Homo sapiens: one gene and its partner. The protein of the gene in region 1 interacts with the protein of each later gene in a pairwise test. Each region holds a gene or a part of one and is shown on either strand. Other genes may lie near its edges.

Region 1 (2,543 bases):
TGAGCTACAAACATATTGGCATATAAGAGCAAACTATGCGGCTTTTATAAATGGAAGTGCATTGAAAAGCATAAAATGATGGAATACATATTGACAATGCAATATAATGTTAAGAAAAAGTTGCGTCTATCATGAACATTGCCCTTGAAACTTGTTTAGAAGCTGAATCTGCTGCAAAAAGGGCATTTGGGAAATCTGTGCTTCAGAATCCATCCTGCCTACCTATTTGCAACTTTAAATGATTGAGTTTAACTTTTAGGAAACCCAACATCCTAGAGAAGTCTTTCTGCTTCTTTGTCCTTCACAAGATCAACTGAAGTTCTCTAGCTGTGTAAAAAGGCTGAATTTCAGGTAATGAAAGAAAGTTAAACTGCTTTGGTTTTTTGAATTATTTTCTTGTTTAAATATAAGGTTTAAGTATAATGACAATTATTTTTAAATTTCTAAAATTAATTTTACTCAAAGATAGCATAACAATGTTAAGGAAAAGGAAATAATAATACAGTCATCCATGATACTGTTGCCAGCACCATAATTTTTATTAATGCATATTATCCTCCCATGTATTTTACATTCATATTTTACATATAATGATGACATTCATATAGCTTTTTTTTTTATATTCCAGAAAATGTTATTTACTTGTTACTGACAATGTCTCTTCTAGACGAGTCATCCTGTTTTTTCTCCCGCTGTTGTACTTTTGCTTTTCTTTTTCCACCTACTCAGATCCTTCACTTCCTCACCCCTACTCCTATATCACCATGTCAGGTAATGCATATTAACAACTTGGTAAATATCCTTCAGTTGCTTTCTTCATCTCCTTTCCCAGGTGCCCACATGCATCCCTCACATACATCCTTCTCGGTATTCTGTTTTGTTCACTTTGCACGGGAATCCTTCTAAGTCAACCTTTAAACATCAAACTCATTTTTAAATGAATGCATAATGTTCTATATTATGCATGAATCATAATTTATTCAACTATTCTATTGATGGGCATGCACTCTGTTTTTCCTTCTAGAGTGTGGCAATAAATAATCTTGTGCATTTCCTTTCATTTCCTTGGTGTAGATATCAGTAGTAGAATTGAGGTCAAATATGCATATTTAATTTGAACAGATATCAGCTCTACAATGCACATTTCCATCAGCAATAAATGATTCATTTCTTGCCCTTTACCTCTCTTCTGGGACTGTAGTGTTCTCTGAAGTTTTCGTCCATGTGTTGGGCTCGTTGGTACTTTGATTCGTATTTCTCTGGCTACAGTTAGAGCATCTTTTTATGTTGATGGGCCATTTGGATTTGTTCTTATCTAAACTGCCTAGTTATATATCTTTCAACCATTTATCTTTTGAATAGTTTACCTTTTTTTTTTTTTTTTTTTTTAAACGGAGTATCACTCTTGTTGCCCAGGCTGGAGTGCAATGGCACCATCTTGGCTCACTGCAACTTTCGCCTCCTAGGTTCAAGCAATTCTCCTGCCTCAGCCTCCTGAGTAGCTAGGATTACAGGCATGCACCACCACACCCAGCTAATTTTGTATTTTTAGTAGAGATGGGGTTTCTCCACGTTGGCCAGGCTAGTCTCAAACTCCTGACCTCAGGTGATCCACCCGCCTCGGCCTCCCAAAGTGTTGGGATTACAGGCATGATCCACCGTGCCTGGCCGTGAATAGTTTAATCTTTTATCTGTGCTATACTTTCCCAAATTTGACTTTGCAATATATTTTGCCAAATTTTAAATTTATATATACAGTCTGTGACTTACAGTTTTACTTATAATTTTTCAGCTTTGTGATGGATTTATCAGGGTATTAAATGCATTTTCGACTTACATTTTTGACTTCTGATGGGCTTATTGGGACATAACCCCATTGTAAGCTGAGAAGCATCTGTGTGTACACACACACACACTTATTATTTACTTGAAATATATATCTTAAATATAGCTTCATTTTTAAAAATTAGCTAAGAAGGTCTACCCTATCTCTAGATTTCTAGTCTCTTAGATTTTCTTCTAAGACTTCTACTGTTTTACTTTATAGCTTGAAAACATTTTAATATATCTGGAAAGTGCTTTTTGCATGATATAGGGGTTGAACTTTTATTGTCTTTAGACAGATAGTTAGTTGTGCTAGCATTTTACTGATACTATTTTCTATTGAAATATATTTTTGTCGGCCGGGCACAGTGGCTCACACCTGTAATCCCAGTACTTTGGGAGGCTGAGGCGGGCAGATGACCTGAGGTTGGGAGTTCGCAACTAGCCTGACCAACATGGAGAAACCCCATCTCTACTAAAATACAAAATTAGCCCAGGCGTGGTGGCACATGCCTGTAATCCCAGCTACTCGGGAGGCTGAGGCAGGAGAATCACTTGAACCTGGGAGGCGGAGGTTGTGGTGAACCAAGATCGTGCCATTATACTCCAGTCTGGGCAACAAGAGGGAAACTGTCTCAAAAAAAAAAAAAAAAAAAAGAAAGAAAAAGAAATATATTTTTGTCACGTATAAACGTCATATACTGGAATCTAGTTCTGGA
Region 2 (7,040 bases), on another chromosome or scaffold:
GGGCCCTCCTCCCTACCCCCAGGCCAGCCCCCTGCCCCTCCGCGGCCTTGGGCACTCTCACCGTCTCCTTCGGCCGTTTCTGGGCTCTCTTGGGGTTCATCTCCAGGGTGGCAAACTTGGAGGTGCCCTCCTGCCAGGGTAGAGGACAGGGTCAGCAAGGCCCTATCCCCTCAGCCCTCAGGCACCCTGACCTGGGGTGCTGCCAGTGTGGTCGGGTTCCAGGGCTGACCCTGTATCAATACTCACTAGTGTGGGGTCCTGGGCCGGTGGCCTGGCCTTCCTGAGCCTGCCTCCCCCTCTGGAAAGTGCGGATGAGAACTCCGCCTGCTGCATGGTGCGGTGGCTCACGCCTGTAATCCCAGCATTTTGGAAGGCCAAGGCAGGTGGATCACTTGAGGTCAGGAGTTTAAGACCAGCCTGGCCAACACAGTGAAACCCCATCTCTACTAAAAAATACAAAAATTACCTGGGTTGGTGGTGCACACCTATAATCCCAGCTACTTGGGAAGCTGAGGCAGGAGAATCCCTTGAACCCAGGAGGTGGGGATTGCAGTGAGCCGAGATCACGCCATTGCACTCCAGCCTGGGAGACAGAGCGAGACTCCTTCTCTAAACAAATAAAAAAACTCCACCTGCCTCGCAGGGCCTCAGAGACTCTGCGCTACAGTCCTGTTATGGCTGCACACTCCTTTCTCCCTTGAACCTTCCATAAGGTCAGCACCCCAGGGCTGGCATTCCTCCATTTTCTAGATGAGGAAACTATGGCCCTGAGATGGGCAGTGACTTGCCCTGGGCCCCCCAGGGACTCAGAACAGGCTCTTCTGTCCTAGCCAGAGGCTCTGCCCCATCTGCCTTTACCCGTTTGGTCACTGATCAGGGTACCGTCCTCTGGGCTTCTCGTGCATGCCAGGGCCCCCAGTGGAGCTGTGCCACGGAGGGAGAGGGACAGGTGTCCCAGGAGCCCCCTGCGATGCTCCCCTGTAGGGAACTCTGTGTGTGTCCACGCAGGAGGGGGGCCCTAGATGCCATTTCACTGACCGGGTATGCCAGGGGCACCAGGCAGTGACACTTGACTCCCTCTGAGGCCTCGTGAATCCATTAGTCACTGAAAGTTCTCCTCAGTCATCTGGGGTATCCGCCACAGCTAATGGGGTGCCATGGGAAGAATTCTACAGGGTTCTCTGGTCAGTGTCTCTTCTCGGGGCAGGGTAGGGAAGCCACATGGGGCCTCCAAATCTGCCTCCCAGGTCTGGCCACCTGGCCCCTGGCATCCCCTGCAGCTCCTGTCCCTGGGGTAGGCAGGCTGCCCTCTCCTTGGGTGTGTAGAGCAGACAGAGGTAGCGTCAGGAGCCTGGCCTCCCGGGGACAGACTGGGCCGGTGTGGGGGCAGGAGCCGCATCCCCTTCCCACCCAGCAGGAGGGACCGGCGAGGAAGCCAGAGGCCTGCTGGTCCTGATGCCCATCTACTCCTCCTGGAACCTCCACTGCTACCCTTACTGTGTCCAATTAACTGGGGCCCTGTCCCTCAAACACCCAGGGGCCAAACAGATCCCTCTTCCCCCTTCACGCACACGGGAAAGGAACTTTCCCAGCAAGAAGCGAATGCCACCGCCCGCCGCCCCAGCCCCCGCCCCAGCCCCCGCCCCAGCCCCCGCCCCAGCCCCAGCCCCCGCCCCAGCCCCCGCCCCAGCCCCCGCCCCAGCCCCCGCCCCAGCCTGCCGCCACTCCACCTTGATGAGCAGCTCCCGGCTCAATGAGTAGTTGTTCTCATCTGAGAAGATCTCTGACAGCTTCTGAAAGATCCGGAAACTGTCCCTGTCAGAAGGGCAAAGAAGGAAAGAGAAAGCTGGGAATGGTAGGGAGGGGTGTGAGTGCAAATCCGTTTTATTTTAGAGCTGAAAGACCCCAGACTGCCTGAACGCAGCACACAGGGTACCCCAGAGCACTAACGCTCTGCAGGTCTGGGGAGGGGGCCTTCATGTTGGTGCAACAGGACCCCATTCCCGTTTCCACTGAGCAGCTATTTCCAAAGGGGTTTTTTTCTTTTTTTGGAGACAGTTTCAGTCACCCAGGCTGGAGTGCAGTGGCCAGATGTCGACTCATTGCAACCTCTACCTCCTGGGTCCAAGAAATTCTCCTGCCTCAGCCTCCCAAGTAGCTGGGATTACAGGCGTTAGCCATTGCGCCTGGCACAAAGGTTTTGATTTCAATTGGATGAGGGTTCTGTGGCTACAACACGAATACCTGAAAATCTCTGATGTGGCTCAACCCACCATCTGACAGCTTAGGAAGCCGAGCTCTGAGGCAGAGCTGCTGCCAACTCAGGTCAGTGAAGGGTCCCTGCCCTCAGGGTTTGTGGCCTCCCATGGGCTCACTAAGGGGGTGATGCCAGCCCTGTGGGAGGTCCCTGGTGCACCAGGAGCTCCTACAGAGGCATGCCCACCTGGAAACGTCTTCCCACGTCTTCTTCAGACGGTGGATGGAGTTGCTCTGCAGGGCAGAGAGGATGGCATACAGTGACGAGAAGTTCTTGAGGATCCGGCACTCCTGGGGCGGGAAGAGCAGGAGGCATGAGGTGGGGCTGGAGCTCCCAGCTTGCCTGGCCTCAGTCCCCCTTGGCCAAGCCTCCCCTCCTAATGAGACAGACACCCAGGGAGTCCCCAGAGGGCACGCCTGCGACCCGGGGGTGACAGGAGGATTTTAGCTCAACCCAAGGAAAGAGTGTAAGGAAGACGTGAGCATCCAGGCAGTGGGCTGGGAGAGTCAAGGCCAGCATGCCCCTGGGAAGGGTAGACTGGGGCCTGTACAGGGCCTTGGACTGCAGACCACAACCTGAGAACAGATGAAGCCAAAGTGGGGGCCCAGGCCCCTCCTCTGGCATACCCTGGCCACCTCGATCCAGTGCTCCACCACCCTGGCCCTGTCTGGGGCTTTCGTGCTTCGGTTCCCGAGGCAGGTGGTGATGACACAGTTGGCCACACTGTTGAACTGGGTGACAGTGGCGCGGATGGTGGGCGCCAGGTGCTCCTTGCCCTTCTTGTCCCGCTGGGACCAGATGGAGCCCAGGCAGTGGTAGGGCACCACCTTCTTGAACAGTTCCTGGGGAGGAGGCTAAATGTCACCTGGTCCTGCCCCAGCAGTCTGGGCTGGTGCTGGGGAAGCTGAGGATGCAGCTTGAGCCTTGTGGGGATCTCTGGGTTTTATCCCGTGTCCATGCAGGGTGCCCAGCACACAAGTGACCCGGGACAGAACGCTGGTGGGAAGAAGAGGAGCACCGCCTCGCGCAGCCTCACCAAGCCCCAGCTCCAACAGGCGGCTCACGCCTGCCCACCCCCCATCCCCCCGCCTCAGTCTGCTCCCCATCCAGACGCACATCTGCTGTGGGCGCTACAACTAAGGGCTTTGTCCAGTGTCTGCCATAGGCTCCAGGACACACCAAGTGCCTAATGAGTGCTGAGGCTGGTGAGCCTCCTGAACAGATGGGGGTGACCCATGGATGCACCTTGGTGAGCACCCTCCGCTCCCACAGGCCAGGCCTGCTGAGCTTCCTGTCTGTTCCATCTAGAATCTGCACAGTCACTCTGGAGGATAGGGGTGACCTCATCTCTACTGTCCAGAGGTAAACTGAGGACTTGGGGTTAAGGAACGACCTGGTTACTTGGTGTGTAGCAGCAGAGCTGGGATTTGACCAGAACATCAGCTCTGGATCAGCAAATGGTAGGTCTGGGACAGCAGATGCTGCCAGAAGGCAGGCCCACCCCTGCCCTGCCAAGCTGAGCTGCTCACCGCATCCATCAGTGTAAACTGCTCTGCCACCAGATCTGGAGGGAACACCAAGAGGTGAGGCTTCTCCTCACTCAGCCCGTTCTCTGCAACCACAGGTGAAGGCCAGGAAGGCTGTAATGATGGAACTGGTGCTGGAGCTGGCTCCAGCTCTAGAGTTTGTGAGGGAGCTGGATCCTGTTCTGGAGCTGGCTCTAGTTCCAGAGCTGGCGCTGGAGCCGATTCTAGTCCCACAGCTGGCTCTGGAGCCTGCTGGAGCTCCGGAGCTGGTGCTGGAGCTACTTCTAGCTCTGAACCTGGAGCTGGTGTTGGAGCTGGCTCTGGCTCCGGGGCTGGAGCCGGCACTGGGCTGGGTGCTCGAGCTGGTGTTAGAGCTAGCTCGAGCTCTGGAGTTGGTTTTAGAGCTGGCACTGGTGACAGAGCTGCAAGAGGAGAAAAGTTCAACAACATGCCAGCCTTTCCTGTGCCTTTCCAAAGACACAGAACAGCCCCGGCTTCCAGAGAAGCCTCTCTCCCCGAACCCACAAAACGTGTACCAGGCCACTCTCCTGCCTGTGGTCCCTGCCTGTGTGGTCTGAGGCTCATCTGGGCCCCTGACCCAGCACCAGACCCTGGAGCCTCCTCTTCGTGTGGCCCAGCACCGACCCCTCCTCATTCACCCTCTGGCACCCACCCCAGTCCTCCTCACCCTCAGGCTCTGCCTCAATGGGTTCCGAGTGCTCCAGCTGGGCCAGGAGAAGGTGGGCACGGCGCTCCAGGTCTGAGCCTGGCATGTTGAGCTGCACGTAGGCCACCAGCTGCTTGAGGCAGGGAAAGTCCGGAGGTTGACAGAAATCCTCCGAGTACTGGTCCAGCCAGGTGCCCAGGATGGAGGAGATGGCACTGGGGACAGGTGGGTGGCAGCAGAGTCAGAGGCCTGGGCTCCCCTGAGCCAGGCTGGGCTCCTGAGCCGGCCCCTGTCCATCTGAAGGCCACCTGCCCCGGCCCAAGCCCCCTTGGCTGTCCAGCTAAAAGAACCAAGGAGGCCCCTGGTCAGTGGCGAACACCTCTCCCCTCCTCCAAGGAAGCCCCGCCCACAGCTCTGCATGTCTCCCAGCACCCCCTCCTCGCTGGAATGTAAACTCCATGAGGGATCGGTCCTCCTGCCGGGCATCTGCAGGTCCCTGGCGGCTCCTCAACTTGTAGCTCAGTGCTGGTGAGCTGCCTTACTCTCTCAGAGCTGTGTGTGGGTCTCATCTTCCCACTAATCCTGTTCTCCCAGAGGGTGGGGTGCAGCCTGCCCACTGAGCACTCACTATTGAGGGGTGAGGCAATGTGAGAGCAGAGGCTCACCCCACCTCTTGCCAGGGGCCCCTAGATCAGGGCCCACTGAGCCAAGGCCAGCTGGGATGAGGCTATGGTGGGATGAGTTCCCGCCGGGGGCTGCCCCGAGCCCCAGCCACCCCAGGACCCCTCCACAGCTCTCGGTCGTCTTTCTTCCTGCAGGCGAAGCCCCCAGACCCCAGCCCTCTAGCAGGAACCACAAGAGGTGTGGGAGCCAGGGTTCTGCCCAGCCAGCCCCGGCTCCGGCCCCAGCCCCATGTACTCTCCCACTGTTCGGTGGGGACAGGGTCCCTTCCTCTTGGCTCAAAGCTCACTCACTTTTTAAGTTGGTCCTGGGGTCCACCATCCTCGTCGGAATAGGGGAGGATGCAGCCGTATCTAGAGGAGGCCGTGAGGGCGTCACATCTACCGTACCTGCTTATGACGTCTAGTGTTACTGTCTGACTCTCCGACTAGAACGGAGGCCCAGGAGGGCAGGGATTTTTTTTTTTGCTTTTTTTCATCAAATTATATTAAATGCCTAGAAAAGGGCCAGCACACAGTAGGTGCTTCATATATATTTGTTCAATGAATAAGTCCCAACCAGCTCCTTCCCAGCTATCTGAGCGCCCCTTGGGTCCCTCCAACAGCCCCCAGATAGAATCCGGAATCTCCTTGACAAGTGGGAAAACTGCTTCGCCCAAGGCCACATACAAGAGAGGCTTGGGGCAGAGAGCTTCCCCATGGGGGACAGGAAAATCATAAAAACGAGCACCACAGCCCCGCAGCCCATTCCCTACAGGGCCAGGCGTTGAGGGAGCACTTTCCACGCCTCATCCCGCCCAGGCATGGTGACAACCCCATGAGGTCCTCTTAGCACTCCAGTTTCTCTTTCATATGAGCAAAGCGAGGCTCAGAGAGGTGAATCAGCATTGCCAAGACCCGCAGCCAGGTGGGGGTGGGGGCGAGGGCCCCTGTGCACCCTGTGCAGTGGAGGGCTCATGCTCACCTTTTGAACAGCAGGTCCAGGACCTGTTGGGTGGTGGTGAAGGCTCTATAGGTACACAGGAAGATGGTGACGTAGGAGAGGTCGCTGCCCTGGAAGGCTGGCACCAGGTGCTCCACCAGCTTCTCCAGCGTGCCAGCCTTCACGGTCCGCACCTTGCAAGTCTCATAAAGGTTCAGGGCCGACTCATTCTCATACTGGGGTGGGACAGAGGAGGGACAGACAGTCAGTGGCAGCACACGAATCTCCTGGAGCTCAGATGGAACCCCGAGCCCTCAGCAGCTTGTGGCAAGAGGCAGGACTGAGTATCTCTAGCAGAAAAAGGTTATCAGCTTTAAAAGTAGAATTTCAGGCCAGGTGTGGTGGCTCACATCAGTCATCCCGGCACTTTGGGAGGCCAAGGTGGGAGCATCACTTGAAGCCAAGAGTTTGAGACCAGCCTGGGCAACAAAGTGAAATCCCCCAGCTCTACAAAAAAATTGTTTACAAAACTTAAAAATTAGCCAGGGCCAGGCATAGTAGCTTACGCCTGTCATCCCAGCATTTTGGGAGGCTGAGGTGGGCAAATTGCTTGAGCCCAGGAGTTTGAGACCAGCCTGGGCAACATGGCAAAACCCCATCTCTACAAAAAATACAAAATTAGCCAGGTGTGGTGGTCCCAGCTACCTGGGGAACTGAGGTGAGAAGATCGCTTGAGCCCAGGAGGTCAAGGCTGCTGTGAGCTATGATCATACCTCTGCATGGCAGCCTGGGTGACAGAGTGAGACCCTGTCTCTAAAAGAGTGAAAAAATTTTTAAAGTAGAATTTGAGGTGCGGGAATGATTTAAATACTGACACCTTCAGGTCCGTTGTTAGCTGAGTAATGGTAGCTGCCCTGTGGGAAGAGCGTCATCTGAGAGCTCTAACAAAATATCCCCATTCTAGAGATGAGGAAACAGAGGCTTATCC

Evidence for each region. The genes of interacting proteins can lie anywhere in the genome.
Region 2: the proteins of RAP1B (region 1) and RALGDS interact in binary tests that used the Homo sapiens proteins (3 or more experiments, as listed by UniProt).

Annotation. Positions count from the first base shown.
Region 1 is NC_000012.12:68,669,874-68,672,416, reverse strand, and holds the end of RAP1B (ras-related protein Rap-1b isoform 1 precursor), read right to left. Parts: 3' UTR 516-2,543; downstream 1-515. UniProt on the Homo sapiens protein: GTP-binding protein that possesses intrinsic GTPase activity. Contributes to the polarizing activity of KRIT1 and CDH5 in the establishment and maintenance of correct endothelial cell polarity and vascular lumen.
Region 2 is NC_000009.12:133,104,202-133,111,241, forward strand, and holds part of RALGDS (ral guanine nucleotide dissociation stimulator), read right to left. Parts: intron 6,289-7,040; coding exon 6,095-6,288; intron 5,521-6,094; coding exon 5,425-5,520; intron 4,666-5,424; coding exon 4,472-4,665; intron 4,206-4,471; coding exon 3,787-4,205; intron 3,100-3,786; coding exon 2,884-3,099; intron 2,548-2,883; coding exon 2,444-2,547; intron 1,816-2,443; coding exon 1,731-1,815; intron 131-1,730; coding exon 62-130; intron 1-61. UniProt on the Homo sapiens protein: Functions as a guanine nucleotide exchange factor (GEF) activating either RalA or RalB GTPases and plays an important role in intracellular transport. Interacts and acts as an effector molecule for R-Ras, H-Ras, K-Ras, and Rap.